Linked DNA regions of Homo sapiens. The protein of the gene in region 2 purifies or fractionates together with the protein of the main gene of each other region. This does not show direct contact. Each region holds a gene or a part of one and is shown on either strand. Other genes may lie near its edges. The genes, in order: SPPL2B, ATRN, STAM2 and STAM.

Region 1 (3,569 bases), on a different chromosome or scaffold from region 2:
CATTCGCTTGATTCCATTCTCTCCCTCCACACACACTCACGCGCTGTCATTCGCTTGATTCCGTTCTCTCTCTCCACACACACTCGTGTTCTCATTCGCCTGATTCCGTTCTCTCTCTCCACACACACTCGTGTTCTCATTCGCTTGATTCCGTTCTCTCTCCACACACACGCGCTCTCATTCGCTTGATTCCGTTCTCTCTCTCCACACACACTCGTGTTCTCATTCGCCTGATTCCGTTCTCTCTCTCCACACACACTCGTGTTCTCATTCGCTTGATTCCGTTCTCTCTCTCCACACACACGCGCTCTCATTCGCTTGATTCCGTTCTCTCTCTCCACACACACTCGTGTTCTCATTCGCCTGATTCCGTTCTCTCTCTCCACACACACTCGTGTTCTCATTCGCCTGATTCCGTTCTCTCTCTCCACACACACTCGTGTTCTCATTCGCTTGATTCCGTTCTCTCTCTCCACACACACGCGCTCTCATTCGCTTGATTCCGTTCTCTCTCTCCACACACACTCGTGTTCTCATTCGCCTGATTCCGTTCTCTCTCCACACACACTCGTGTTCTCATTCGCTTGATTCCGTTCTCTCTCTCCACACACATGCGCTCTCATTTGCTTGATTCCGTTCTCTCTCCACACACACTCACGCGCTCTCATTCGCTTGACTCTGTTCTCTCTCTCCACACACACTCACGCTCTCATTCGCTTGATTCCGTTCTCTCTCTCCACACACACTCGCGCCCTCATTCGCTTGATTCCATTCTCTCTCTCCACACACACTCACATGCTCTCATTTGCTTGATTCTGTTCTCTCTCTACACACACTCACGCGCTCTCATTTGCTTGATTCCGTTCTCTCCCTCGACACACACTCGCTCTCATTCGCTTGATTCCGTTCTCTCTCTCCACACACTCACGCGCTCTCATTCGCTTGACTCTGTTCTCTCTCTCCACACACACTCGCGCTCTCATTTGCTTGATTCCGTTCTCTCTCTCCACACACACTCACGCGCTCTCATTCGCTTGATTCCGTTCTCTCTCCACACACACTCGTGCTCTCATTGGCTTGATTCCGTTCTCTCTCCACACACACACTTGCGCTCTTATTCGCTTGATTCCGTTCTCTCTCTCCACACACTCACGCGCTGTCATTCGCTTGACTCCGTTCTCTCTCCACACACACACTCACGTGCTCTCATTCGCTTGATTCCGTTCTCTCTCTCCACACACACTCGCGTTCTCATTCGCTTGATTCCGTTCTCTCTCCACACACACACTCGCGCTCTCATTCGCTTGATTCCGTTCTCTCTCTCCACACACACTCACGCTTTCATTCGCTTGATTCCATTCTCTCTCTCTCCACACACACACTCACGCTCCCCCGTGTACTGCAGTTGGCCCTCACTAGCCATGGGTTCCTGCAGCTGTGGATTTCACTAGCTGTAGGTTGAAAATATTTGGGGAAAAGATTTGTGTTCTTATCTGTACTGAACACATGCAGATTTTTTGGGCCAGTTTTCCCGAAGCAATGCCATGCGACAGCCATTGCCTGCGGCGACATCACGTTTGCGTTTGTAGGAACCTATGGTGATTTATGGTTTGGCAGGACGCGGGTGGGTTCTAGGCAGACACTGCACCAGTTTACGTCAGGGACATGAGCAAGGGGGTCCTGGCAGCCCTCCCCTGCGGGTGCCAAGGGTGGCCATGTGTGCGTTTGTGTATTTACATGCACACGTATGTAAATCACAGGCTGCGTTCTCAGGGGACTGGGGGCACGGCCCCGGTGGGTGGACACCGTGCCCTTTGACCCCAAACATTTCACTGGGTGTCTCCTGAGAACATAGTTTATATGCCCACAGCTCAGTGTTCAAGGGTTTTCTGGTCAGGCACATGTGTCACCTTCGGCTGATTTTCTCAGAGGTTCATAGAAACTGCATCCCAGACACGTCTCGCAGCCCCCTCCGCTATCACGTCTGCCTCCCGCTGTCCTGCAGCTGCCCGGACCCTGCCCCTCCCTGTCCCTCTCCTTGCCCTGGCCCTTCCATGTCCTCGGTGACCCTGGCTCCGGTAGGGTCAGGGTGGGATTGTGGCCCAGGAGGTGCCGGAAGGATCCATGTACTTTGGGGAGCCTGTGGCCCTGCCGGCTGAACCCCCACTGTACCTCTCCCGTCCTCGCACACCCCTGCCCTCCACCAACCCCAGCCCGCTCACGTTCTTCCCAGGGAAATGGGTGGTGGCCCTGGCCTGCCTGGCTGAGGTGATGCCTCCTCTGTCCCCACAGCCTATGGCGTTGGCCTCCTTGTGACATTCGTGGCACTGGCCCTGATGCAGCGTGGCCAGCCCGCTCTCCTCTACCTGGTGCCCTGCACGCTGGTGACGAGCTGCGCTGTGGCGCTCTGGCGCCGGGAGCTGGGCGTGTTCTGGACGGGCAGCGGCTTTGCGGTGAATACCAGTTTGCTCTGACTGTGAGAAATACTCGCCTAGTGAGCCCTAACTAGAGTTAAAGTTGAGTGAGACCTCCAGCCACAGCCAGCCCTGCGGCCGCGACGGGGCTCAGGGTCCTGGTACCTTCTGCTTTGGGTGTCATGCGCGTGAGGCCCCGGTGGAAGGACGTGCGTGCAGCTCCTGTGCCGGGTGGGATGCGGGGGTGCCAGGTGGGGCCCGGGGGTGCCGGGTGGGACGCGGGGGTGCCGGGTGGGGCCCAGGGGTGCCGGGTGGGACGCGGGGGTGCCGGCTGGGACTCGGGGGTGCCATGTCCTTTCTAAAGTTGCTTCTCCCAAATAGTAGTGCCCCACCTGCGTGGGCATCGGGCATCCATCGCCTCTCCTGCCGAGAGCGAGGCGCCTGACTGGGGGTGGGGCCGCAGGGCCCTGGACGAGGGGAGCAGGCCTGCCCTGGCTGTGGAAGCCCTGTCCCCTGTCCCCCTTGGCAAGGCAGGGGGTGGTTGGCAAGGGTTAAACGTGAGATGCAGGGAGGGCTTACGCCACGTCGGTTCTGCTCTTGTGATTTTTTGTGAACAGGAGTGGGTGGGACCCCCCCTTCCAGTGTGCCGCTCAGGTGACTTCCTGGGTTCCCGGGACTCAGGCGCATTGCGCCCGAGAGCTGCCCCCGCCCCTCCGGGCAGCGCCTCTTGGAGTCCATGACCGCCCAGGGAGCAGCCCTGCGCCATAGGGCGATCCTCAGGCTGTTGGGCATGGGTGCAGCTCCTCCCATAGCTGATCTCCCTCTGGGGGAGATGCCGCGCTTCTCAGCGGTGCTGGCCGCGCATGGGGTCCTACGTCATGTTTTTGTGGAGGTTAAACCACACCCGTCCCTGCCGCACTGGTGTGATGCATTGGGTCGAGCTGTGGTTCCAGTGCCGAGCTGGGCTCATGGGTCCCACAGATGGGACCATGGCCTGAGACCAGGCCCCAGGGAGAAGTCTCCTGGGGCCAGCACCCCCACCCCAAAGGTCTCCCCATTCTGATGGGCATTTCAGAAGGTTCAGGAGAAGCCGGGGACCAGGCCCAGGGGCGAGAGACGGTAGTCCAGGCTTTTCTTTGGAGAGGCTTTGCACAG
Region 2 (3,569 bases):
TCTACTGATGTCACCAGATTATGTACACATATACATGTTACAATTCATCCCCCATATAATTATTCATAGATCTTATATATACAAAGTATTAAAAATTTTAAGAGGAAGAGACTCTGACAGCACAAACCCACAGTCCCTCAGGCTGCGTTCACCAGCACTCCCCTTCTTGCCAAGCACGTCACACATATCCACAGCCTTCCACATGCAAGCTGCAGTCATGCCCTTGGTAGAAAGGTGGATAACCAGAAACTTAAGTTTTGAGGATTTTAACTCACCATGCTCTGAGATGACTGCATTATTCGCAGCTGCTTAAGGACAAATTCTACCTTCTTCTGGGTTGTAAGAGAAGCCAAAAGGGCATTGTGGTTCCTACAGAACAATTTAGCATTGTCATAATTCTCCTTGGCAGTAGTAATTTTCAAACATGAGTTTCCAACCAAATGCCAGCCAATGCCACAGATATTTTCTTTCATTAAGGGGAAAAGAGAAAGAAAAGAATTTTAGAAATCAGACAAAACTACTGTATTATGAGTTCAAATTACTGAATACCGAAATGGCCTTTCTAATTTAAATTCTAGGTACTTCATTAGGATGTGGGAGCCTCTGACACATTATTAAGGACCAAATGCAGAATACAAGAATTTTAAAATGTTTACTGGTGATATCTCCCGGATCCTAAAAAGCATATTCTGAGGTCACTTATCCTATGTCTTAGATGAAAACACCAGTTTGGTGCCAATATTAGACTGGTACACTTCCTTCTGAAGAACAATTAGAAAACTAAAATCCTAAGTGAAGAGCAGACAAATGAATATGCATATTGGAGGGCTGGGGTAAAAACTGCAAGAATGGAAATGAATCAAGGAATTAACAAATCTATAGTCTCCAAAAGCTGCACTGTTTTCATATCATCAGGTGGAAGGTACAATCAAGTGTACAAAGCATCCCAAAAGCAAGGTGAGAAGGTCCTTCTTGAGAAACAACCCAAGTGATATGGCTATAGCATACAAGACAAGCTTGTAATCTGCTACCTGTGATCATCCTGAACCCACACAAGGTACTGCACAGAAGCTATGAATGCTTCCTGGAAGACAATGAAAGAACAAAGCAACTTCACCAGAACCAAAGTACTTTGGAGACATCAACAATGTTCATTAACAGTAACAGTCACTGAGATAAAAGAAAGGTACCATGGGAAAGAGATCATTTAAGAACAGACAAAGACTTGCTCCTCACAGTGTAGCAGTCGACTAGATAAAATGCACACTCTAGGCCCCACCCCACACTTGCACCAGAATATGCCTTTCGCAAGATTCCCAGGTCTTTTCCTGTACCTTAAAATTTGAGACACACTGAGATATAGAAAAGAGTCCCACTCTGCAAGCTGAATCAAAAACTTCCAAGGGACATTCAAAAAGGGCCTGGTCCAAACCAACTTCCCTGAACAAGCTCAGATGTTGTGCACAGACAAGGAAGTTCCCCTTTCTGGACCACCCTGGTCCAAATATATCACATGGCTGGCTGGTCTCAGGCCCTGAGTTCATCATCCTGAACCTCAGAAGCAGGATATATTGAGGTTTTCAGGGCTGGAGATCACCCCTAAAAGGTGCTGCTGACAGAAGTATCTATCCTCTCCTTCTCAGAGAAGGCCCATTAGCAGGTGCCAACAATTAAATCCCAGTGGTTAATAAGAAGTACTCTCCATAAAGTGCTCAGCAGACTGACTGCTGAGACATCATGGTCTAGTCCCAGGTTATCAAAGGTGGATGGGAAAGAGACAAGGAGCAGGCTCAGTGATACAGAACCAAGCTGTCACTCAATTCTACAGAGCAGCAAAGGATGTTTCACTTTATTTCAAAGGACAGTAGGAACAAATACTTAAGAACTGTATTTTAGTTAAAAACAAAAAAGCCCATAATACTCGTGTGGGGGATGAATGGACAGAATTAGCTCTTCCCCTCTGCTAGGTTCAACTTAGGCTGCACAGTGTTGGGGGAAGCAGGCTGAAGTAATGGACCCACACACACCAAGATGACCCTGCAAGGCCTACCGGGCAGGGCAATGCACTCCTGATTCCGGGGCTCCCACTGGCAGTTCTGGTCCAGGGCACAGCTCCTGCAGCTGGTCTTCTTGTTACAGTAGTACATGGGGTTATCCTTGGGGCAATTCTCATACCTAAAAATGGAGATCTAGAACACAGTGGACAAAAGCTTTTCTTTTGTATCCACAGAGAGAACTTATGGTGAGGACCAACAGGATATTATAGACAACAAAATCTAATTGAGGAAGCAAACTGCAAATAAATAGATAGACAGATAGATAGATAGATAGATAGATAGATAGATAGATAGACAGACAGACAGACAGATAGATAGATAAGTTGCAGTAGCTCTGCAGTGGGGAACACTGCAATGGAATGTTCTGCTCAAGGACATGCTTTTAACTGGCAAGGAAGCAGCCCACTCTTTTAAACACCATGCCTCAACCTGCTCATCTGTAAAATGGGAATGTTGAACTTGGTGCTTTTCAAATGCTCACTTCAAAAGTCTGAAAGTTTTCTATTTTATGAACTGTATGAGACTGACAAAAAAAAAAGTCTTGTAAGCTGTCAAAAACTATAAAAGCCTGGGTCATCTTATAACTTAAATTTAAAAATCTATATATGATGAGCAGTGAGATTATGCCAAACCAAGATATAAAACAAGGAGATTTTGCAAAGTCTGTCATTTCCACAGTTCAATATGGGCCGCTGTACACCTGACTCACTCTCAAACCCTAACTTTATCAAAACCTGGCACTGGTAAAGTGAGGTCACTATCAGATGCCTCAAACCAAGGATCCAGTGCTTAGTCACAGCCATGCCCAGGGACAACAGTCCTACCTTCTTCTAAAACACAATACACAAATTCCCAGGGCTAGTAGGACCCTTGAAATATACAGAACATCTCTTCCTAAAGGAAAACCTCAGGGATAATAAAATCCAAATAGAAACCCATTTGAAAAGTAACTCTGGGCCATTATTTATACCATATACACTATAAAAGCTAAACCTATGACAAATTGGGATTTTTCTGAAATCTTTAAGAAACAGCCTCTGACCTGGCCTTCTGAGCAGCTGTGGTTCCTGGGGACACAATGGTCATTGCACCAGTGGCAGTCATTGGTGTTGGCTGTGCAGCTGTAACAATCTGTGTGCTGGTCACATCTGTCATGGTCAAGAGCTGCAAAGAAAACAAAATCTCATGAACTGGGACAACTTCAATTGAGCAAAATCTGAGACCGAAGTTAAAAAAAAAATCGTAACAATGGTTAAGAAGTAAAATGAAGAATGAAACTGGCAGGAAAATATATTTGGTATGTTCTGGTTAAAATAATATTTAGAAATAGACAATCTAAAGAAACACTGTTTTGTACCCCAAAGAAAGAAGTACACAGAAAGTGAAAACAAGGATAGGTTAATTTAACAACTGTAAGATATAATGAAAGTAAATTCTGGCTCTTTGAATACTTTTCTTTCCAAGAAAAAAAAAATCAACTAGTAATAGAATGAACACCAAAGAAGCCCAGGA
Region 3 (3,569 bases), on a different chromosome or scaffold from region 2:
ACAGCTCCCAAAACTTACCTTAAATATGAAGTTTGAGCAGGCTGTGCTGTCACTGAGGAATTCACATTTGGAGGCAGAGATCTCAGTGGACCAATTTGATCGGGTCCTAGGCTATAGCTTTGGGCAACAGTTACTTGGTGAATGCTCTGACCCATATAGTTTCCACCATGTGATTGAACTGGATATGTCTATTAATCAGAAAGAAAAAGTTGATTCACTCATCTCCCAAACATGTGCCTAATAATATATTTAAAATGTTAAAAGACTTAAAGGAAAGAAACTATACTTCTTTGGGAAGCAATCTGATTCTACCAATCTATCCATCTTAGAACTAAAAGTGGAGAGCTGTCAAATCACAGTGCCAAATCTATGGAAATTTGATTTGTTTGGCTGTTCTTTTATTTTTACAGAGAGCTGGGAGAAAGACAGGTGGTGTACTTTTAAGTAGTGGATTGCAATCTATCCAGGTTGCCTATTACTCAGTAAAGATGTCTTGCTGTAGAGCCACAGAAAACTATACACTCCCTTGAAGGGAAGCCCACCATCACTTAAAGTCACTATAAGAATGATAACCTTCTTTACCCTCATCCCTGGATGACTCATCCAACTCCTTCCTAAGAAAGAAACTTGAGAGAAAAAGCTGAAAAAGAAATGGTATAAGGGTGCCAGGGCTTCCCTGGCAATGTCTACCTTATTCTCTACCTTTAAGACAAACAGGACAAAAGTAAAGAAGAGTTATGGGCAAAAGACATGTATCCTCAGGAAACAGCAAAAATGGTTTAGGTCTCTTTGGACATTTATATGTGCCCTACTTATTTTCAGGACAACAGCTCCTTAAGGACAGGGTCTACCACCTGTCTACTAAATATAGCATCAAAACAATGCATACATTTAATATCATATCATACCATAATGATCATCAATCCAGTTTTAAATTAAGCTATTTTTAAAGTAAATACCATTCATCTGAAAATTTAGAATGCTAGAAATGCCAAATAAGCTATATTAAGTACAATCACATTACCTCCTTAGTAGACATGTAACAATCTACTGACAATAGGCTGAGACTGTGAGAATCAGCGTCTTCTGCAGTTTAGGGTTCCTGAGTAGCCTACACAATATAACTAATGTGTTACCCCAACTGCTTCTAGTAGAGATATATTTTTGTCAAATTAGAATAGAAACTTTTGAATATTTCAAATGCTCTTGAGTGAACAGTGTAGGTACAGATTACGTGAGGAATCAAACAGAAAGTTAACTTTTTAGAGACATGAGTTGTGCTTGGCAAAACGCAGTAAGTAGAATGCAACTAAACACCAAAACCTGACACAGAATGGCAAATAACCCTTTACAGACACACAAAAAAGCAAACATAAAGTTTTATCATACAATGATGCAGACACTGCTGTTTTGTTCCACTTTCACAGCAGCAGCGAACAACTCTGAAAACAGAAGCAAACTGAATAAATCCCAAAGGTCTTTTGCAGCCAGAAAAATCTTTCCTACCCTCCTAATTTTCAAAAAGATCAAGGCATGGCATATTTGATAAATGTATCTTGTCTGACGTGACAGTTACCATAGTGACTATTCTTTTTTTACTTAACAATTATGTTGTGTCAAGTCATCTAAATTATGCACCCACATTCTACCCTTTCTCCTTGGTGTCTCCTTCACATGCACCTTTACATACCAGTTTTCATAAATTAACATGAATTTTGCTCATCCAAGCTCATTCTGAATTCAATTGGCTAATTGGCTGAAATTTCAAAAAACGCTTCCGAATGGGGATACTGACAAATGTAAGTATTCGCTTCACATGGCAAGCACACAAAAAAGGTGAAAAGTACTGGAAAAAGATGGCTTATGGATGTTCATGGATGGCTTACGGAGTCTGTACCTCCTAGACATGTATCATATCTTTGCTATGCACAGATTTTTAACAATGTAAGTCATGCAGCTAAGTAAAGGAAGTATAAAGCATACTCTAGAAGTTCATTGTGCCTGTTAATAATCATGTAAGTCAAATAAATCTTTATGGAAATTTGTAAAGAAATGTTAAATCTTGTTGAGCAGCAGGAAAGCGTTAGTACCTCACCTGGGGAACTTCTGATATGTCAGGTATTGTCCTAAATCAAAAGATTTATACTCCATATTTACAAAAAGGATTTATGTTTACATAAAAGATTTATGCTTTATACTTACAAAAGCATATGAAGAACCAGAACTACCCTCACATATTTAATGGTCTTTTCATCCATGTTAAAACTGAACTAAAATGTATTTGTGAAATATCAGTATCTGTCTAATTTGCTCTGGTGAATGTTAATTGTTTAGCCAATATTTACTGAAACAATCAAAGATAAATTTTATAATTTTATTCACAGACAAAAGAAATCTTAATACTATGCTATAAAACATTTTCTTTTACTTTTAAAAGTTGTTTATAATTTAGAAAATGTTCTCAAAAAACATGCTCACCTGCATTGGAACCCCAGATGATGCAGGTGGGTAATGTGCTGGAGGGTGGAGCTTTGAATAGACTGAGTACACTGGTGCTTCATTCACCAATTTGTTATATAGTTCCAGAGCTTCCAGGACTTTAACATTCAATTCAGACAATTCTGAATGCTTCCTGATGTAGAAGAAAAGTATTATAATACTCTTCTAGTTTTTAGCATGTATTTAGTAATATAAATTATTTTTTTAATTTAGCACAATTTCTATTAATATATTAAAAGGCTTTTTTATATTTAATGAAAGAATATTCACAAAGGGAAACTAAGAGGAAGAACTGCTTAATCCTTGTAATAGCTAGGCTGATATTGAGGCAGGAGAATAGGGTCTGGAGGCAGGGAATCTAAGGCTGATTTTCAAGCTGACTTCTTATAACTAAATTGAAAGGAAAACCAACCCTAACTTTCCACACCTAAGTAACAAAAGGACCAGAGGCTACTTCCTTTGCAAACCCCCCACGTTTTCTGTGCAGCAGATGGGAAATTGGGTGTCCGAAAAAAATCAGACTGATTACAGGTCCAGTCTCCATTTGCAACTTTGTAACTTCAGCCTCTGAATGGTTGCTGTCCACAACCAATCAGACTGACTGTGGGCGGAGTCTTCATTTGCAAAGAAATATAACTTTGTAACTTCACCCTAGCCTCTGATTGGTTGCTTTTTGCAACCAATCAGATGTTTGCACAGCAGTGTTACCTTTGTAACTTCATTTCAGCCTCTGGTTGGCTGCTTTCTGCAACCAATCAGACTGATTGTGAGCTTCCACTTCATTTACATGAGGTGAGCACGAAAAGGCCAATGGGAAACTTCTAGGGGGTACTTGGACCCAAGAAGATTCTGTATCCTGGCCCTTGAGCTGCTGCTCAGGCCCACTCCCACACTGTGGGGTGTACTTTCATTTTCAATAAAACCCTGCTTTTGTTCTTTTGTTGCTTCCATCTTTCTTTGCTTTGCTGGGCATTTTGTCCAATTCTTTGTTCAAAATGCTAAGAACATGGACAACTTGCAGTCACAATCCTCTACTGGTGACAATATGACTTTATAATATTAGGGAAAAG
Region 4 (3,569 bases), on a different chromosome or scaffold from region 2:
TGGCCTTGATCTCCTGACCTCGTGATCCACCCGCCTCGGCCTCCCAAAGTGCTGGGATTCCAGGTGTGAGCCATCGCGCCCGGCCGAGGCCCATATTTTTAAAGCTTCGTATGTAATTATTTACTTAAGAACCTTAGTTCTTCATCAGGTTGTGTACACTCAATATGTATAGCCTTTTGCAGGTCAGACATATCTCAATAAAGTAGTTTCGTAAAAAACACAAAATGCTTTTAGAGCTAAGAAAACTCTCTTAAATATCTAATGAACTTCTAGTTATCCTTAAAAGGAAAACTTAAATGCAGTGAAAAAAAAATGAGGTAAAAACCTGTTTTTATTATTACAAACCAACAAAATATATTTCCATAATTTAAAAACTGCTTTAATCTGGAATTTTCCCTGCTTTACATGAGAATGCATGCAATGCAGTGTAGAGCCGTTTGCTTTCTTTTCACCCCAAGCAACTATTTCAAGGACCCCCTTTTCACAAACTCATCACGGTGAGGTGAGGTTATAGGGAATAACTAGCCAGATACTGGCCGGGTGCGGTGGCTCATACCTGTAATCCCAGCACGTTGGGAGGCCGAGGCGGGTGGATCACGAGGTCAGGAGATGGAGACCATCCTGGCTAACATGGTGAAACCCTGTCTCTGCTCAAAATACAAAAAATTTAGCCTGGCGTGGTGGTGGGTGCCTATAGTCCCAGCTACTTGGGAGGCTGAGGCAGGAGAATGGCATGAACCCGGGAGGCGGAGGTTGCAGTGAGCCGAGATCGTGCCATTGCACTCCAGCCTGGGCGACAGAGCAAGACTCCACCTCAAAAAATAATAATAATAATAATAATAAATAAAAACAAAACTAGCCAGATACTCCATTTTTTCCATGTAAAGTGGGCACGGACTGTGTTCAGATTAACGTTTAGCAGAATGAGGGGCCAGCACCCTGTAGATGAACAGCTAGGCCCAAGAAACTTGGGGCTAGAGGGCACCTGCTTTAGAGTCTTGATCACCAGTTTGAGACAAGGAAGCAAAAAACCTTCATGTTCAATTTTCGAAGAATGACAAAATAAAGTTAGGAGGACTGGTATAGCTGTGTTTATAATGAAGACCCTTTGGATCCCTGTGTGGGTCTGTCGTTTAACAGAAGTGCTAAATGGAAGGATCTAATGAATACTGCAGAAAATTAGGACATTATGTGTTTTAGACTTTGGGTAGTTAAGACTTCAATCTCTTTAGATTAAAAAAATGCATTTTGAAATACAGAAGTAGACAAATCCAGCCTGTTGCCTGTTTTTTTTTTTTTTAATAAACTTTTTTTTGAGACGGAGTCTTGCTTTGTCGCCCAGGCTGGAGTGCAGTGGCGCGATCTCAGCTCGCTGCCAGCTCCGCCTCCTGGGTTCAGGCCATTCTCCTGCCTCAGCCTCCCGAGTAGCTGGGACTGCAGGCGCCCGCCACCACGCCTGGCTAATTTTTTGTATTTTTAGTAGAGACGGGGTTTCACTGTGTTAGCCAGGATGGTCTCGATCTCCTGACCTCGTGATCTGCCTGCCTCGGCCTCCCAAAGTGCTGGGATTACAGGCATGAGCCACCATGCCTGGCGGCTTTAAATAAACTTTTATCAGAACACAGCCACTCTGATTTACTGACAGAGCCGAGTAGTTGTGTCAGAGACTACATGGTCCACAAAACTTAAAATATTTACGTCAGGCCCTTTACAAAAAAGTTTGCTGACCCCTGCTTTAGAAAGTTAGCTTGCTCTATTGTTCAATAAACTGCAGTTTAGGAAATGTGACTTGTATCCATTGCAGTCTATGGCTACAAAACAATGAGTTCAAATACACTTTCTAAATATCCTTTGGGATTCCTTAAAAAATACCAACATGCAGAATATTAAAATATATTTAATGTAAAGGGAGATTAGTATAAAGTTTCAGGATAAGTTTCTTTAATGCTTCAGTATGGAGATAACATGAGTTTAGCATATGTTTAACTAAAAATGAAAACCATCAACAGCCTATTTCATTGAAAAGCGTTTTTCAAAATGCCCGTTGACAGAAATAACTTTGAAAAAAGGATTCCAGAGTGGTGATTTTTCTTGTTTTTGTAACTGAATACCTCTACAGAGAAAGTTCAGTATGCTTATTAAAATTTTAGAATTGAATATGATTTCTCTTTAACCATCGCAGGTGTATGCAGGGCCTCCTCCAAGTGGTGCCTACCTGGTTGCAGGGAACGCGCAGATGAGCCACCTCCAGAGCTACAGTCTTCCCCCGGAGCAGCTGTCTTCTCTCAGCCAGGCAGTGGTCCCACCATCCGCAAACCCAGCCCTTCCTAGTCAGCAGACTCAGGCCGCTTACCCAAAGTAATTTTACTGTTGATTCTTGTTTGGAGTTAGTGCTGTTACAGCTGTTTAAGTGCCCCCAGTTATCTATAACTATAAAATCTGGCTAATAAATATCTGTGGTCAGCGTCATGCGGCCGCCCCATTTGTGCTAATGAGTGGTGGAGCCTCTGTGGTATTCCAGTACCAGCCAGCAAGCTGGTCCTCTGCTCCCGACTCGCTCAACTCATGTAATCTGGTTTCAGCCTTATATTTTTAATACTACTCTAACCATAAGTTTTTATTGTTGTTTTTATTTGCATCTATGATATTTGATAATGTCTTTAATGAAATTTATGTTTAGTGACTATAATTTGTCATTTTTCCACACATTTTGTATAAAATCTAAATTCCGTTATTTTAAAATATATAGTTCTGAGCTGTCTCTTTAAGACAAATATTTTCTTATTTTTGCCCTGTTTTGGAATTTAGTTTATATTATATCAAGGTACCCCATTTGAAACAAGAAGATAATAAGAAGGTAAGCACCCTTGTTTCTCAGGAGGCAGATGGCTGAATATGTGATGACAGAGGCCCATTTACTTTGCCATTTACTTACAGTGCTGTCTGTCATGTAGTTAAATGATTATTGTGTGTTTTTTCTGCTTTAATGGGACTCTGAGCTGAAATCTTTTCCTTGAAGCAAATAAAGGATAGGCTTTTAAGAGTTTACCAACGTGTATTCTAGAAGTTACGACATTCTAGCTGGCAACAGAAGTTTCTAGGTAGCACAGGCACAACTTCTAGAAACCTTTCCAGCAGTGTTAGGATTGCCCAGGAATGCTCCTGCACTGCCCTCTCTTGCACTACTCATCCTCAAAGAGTTACGTGTTAGAGATGCTTGGGGATTTTCAAGCATTATTCGGTTGTCAGATCTAGTATCCCGAAGTGACCTTAAGGGGGATGATGGCAAGGCCCACATGTCAGAAAACAGGGCATTCCCTAGTGGGTTCTGTATCTTAGAAAAAAGTGTTAAGTGTAGCTTGCACTCTTGCAGGATTTTTTTTTAAGTTGAAATCTGGTGGAAATGAATACCCTTCTGGAAAATAAACAGCTGTTCTTAGAGTAGCATGTTGCTTTACAACTAGATACAAAGGGGCTAGAAGGTAGGAATTGTTGAGAAGACACTAGGGTTCCTGACTTAATAGGACCCTGCAGCTATTTTAGTATTAGCCGGAACTGCCACTTTTCCC

What was found.
Region 1: the proteins of ATRN (region 2) and SPPL2B purify together in Homo sapiens (co-immunoprecipitation; one large-scale study listed by IntAct). This does not show direct contact.
Region 3: the proteins of ATRN (region 2) and STAM2 fractionate together in Homo sapiens (co-fractionation; one large-scale study listed by BioGRID). This does not show direct contact.
Region 4: the proteins of ATRN (region 2) and STAM fractionate together in Homo sapiens (co-fractionation; one large-scale study listed by BioGRID). This does not show direct contact.

Annotation. Positions count from the first base shown.
Region 1 is NC_000019.10:2,349,142-2,352,710, forward strand, and holds part of SPPL2B (signal peptide peptidase-like 2B isoform 2 precursor), read left to right. Parts: intron 1-2,292; coding exon 2,293-2,453; coding exon of another isoform or gene 2,454-2,474; exon of another isoform or gene 2,475-2,516; intron 2,517-3,569. UniProt on the Homo sapiens protein: Intramembrane-cleaving aspartic protease (I-CLiP) that cleaves type II membrane signal peptides in the hydrophobic plane of the membrane. Functions in ITM2B and TNF processing.
Region 2 is NC_000020.11:3,575,479-3,579,047, reverse strand, and holds part of ATRN (attractin isoform 1 preproprotein), read right to left. Parts: intron 3,222-3,569; coding exon 3,100-3,221; intron 2,190-3,099; coding exon 2,051-2,189; intron 467-2,050; coding exon 276-466; intron 1-275. UniProt on the Homo sapiens protein: Involved in the initial immune cell clustering during inflammatory response and may regulate chemotactic activity of chemokines. May play a role in melanocortin signaling pathways that regulate energy homeostasis and hair color.
Region 3 is NC_000002.12:152,123,748-152,127,316, forward strand, and holds part of STAM2 (signal transducing adapter molecule 2), read right to left. Parts: intron 2,633-3,569; coding exon 2,479-2,632; intron 189-2,478; coding exon 19-188; intron 1-18.
Region 4 is NC_000010.11:17,706,594-17,710,162, forward strand, and holds part of STAM (signal transducing adapter molecule 1), read left to right. Parts: intron 1-2,182; coding exon 2,183-2,358; intron 2,359-3,569. UniProt on the Homo sapiens protein: Involved in intracellular signal transduction mediated by cytokines and growth factors. Upon IL-2 and GM-CSL stimulation, it plays a role in signaling leading to DNA synthesis and MYC induction. May also play a role in T-cell development.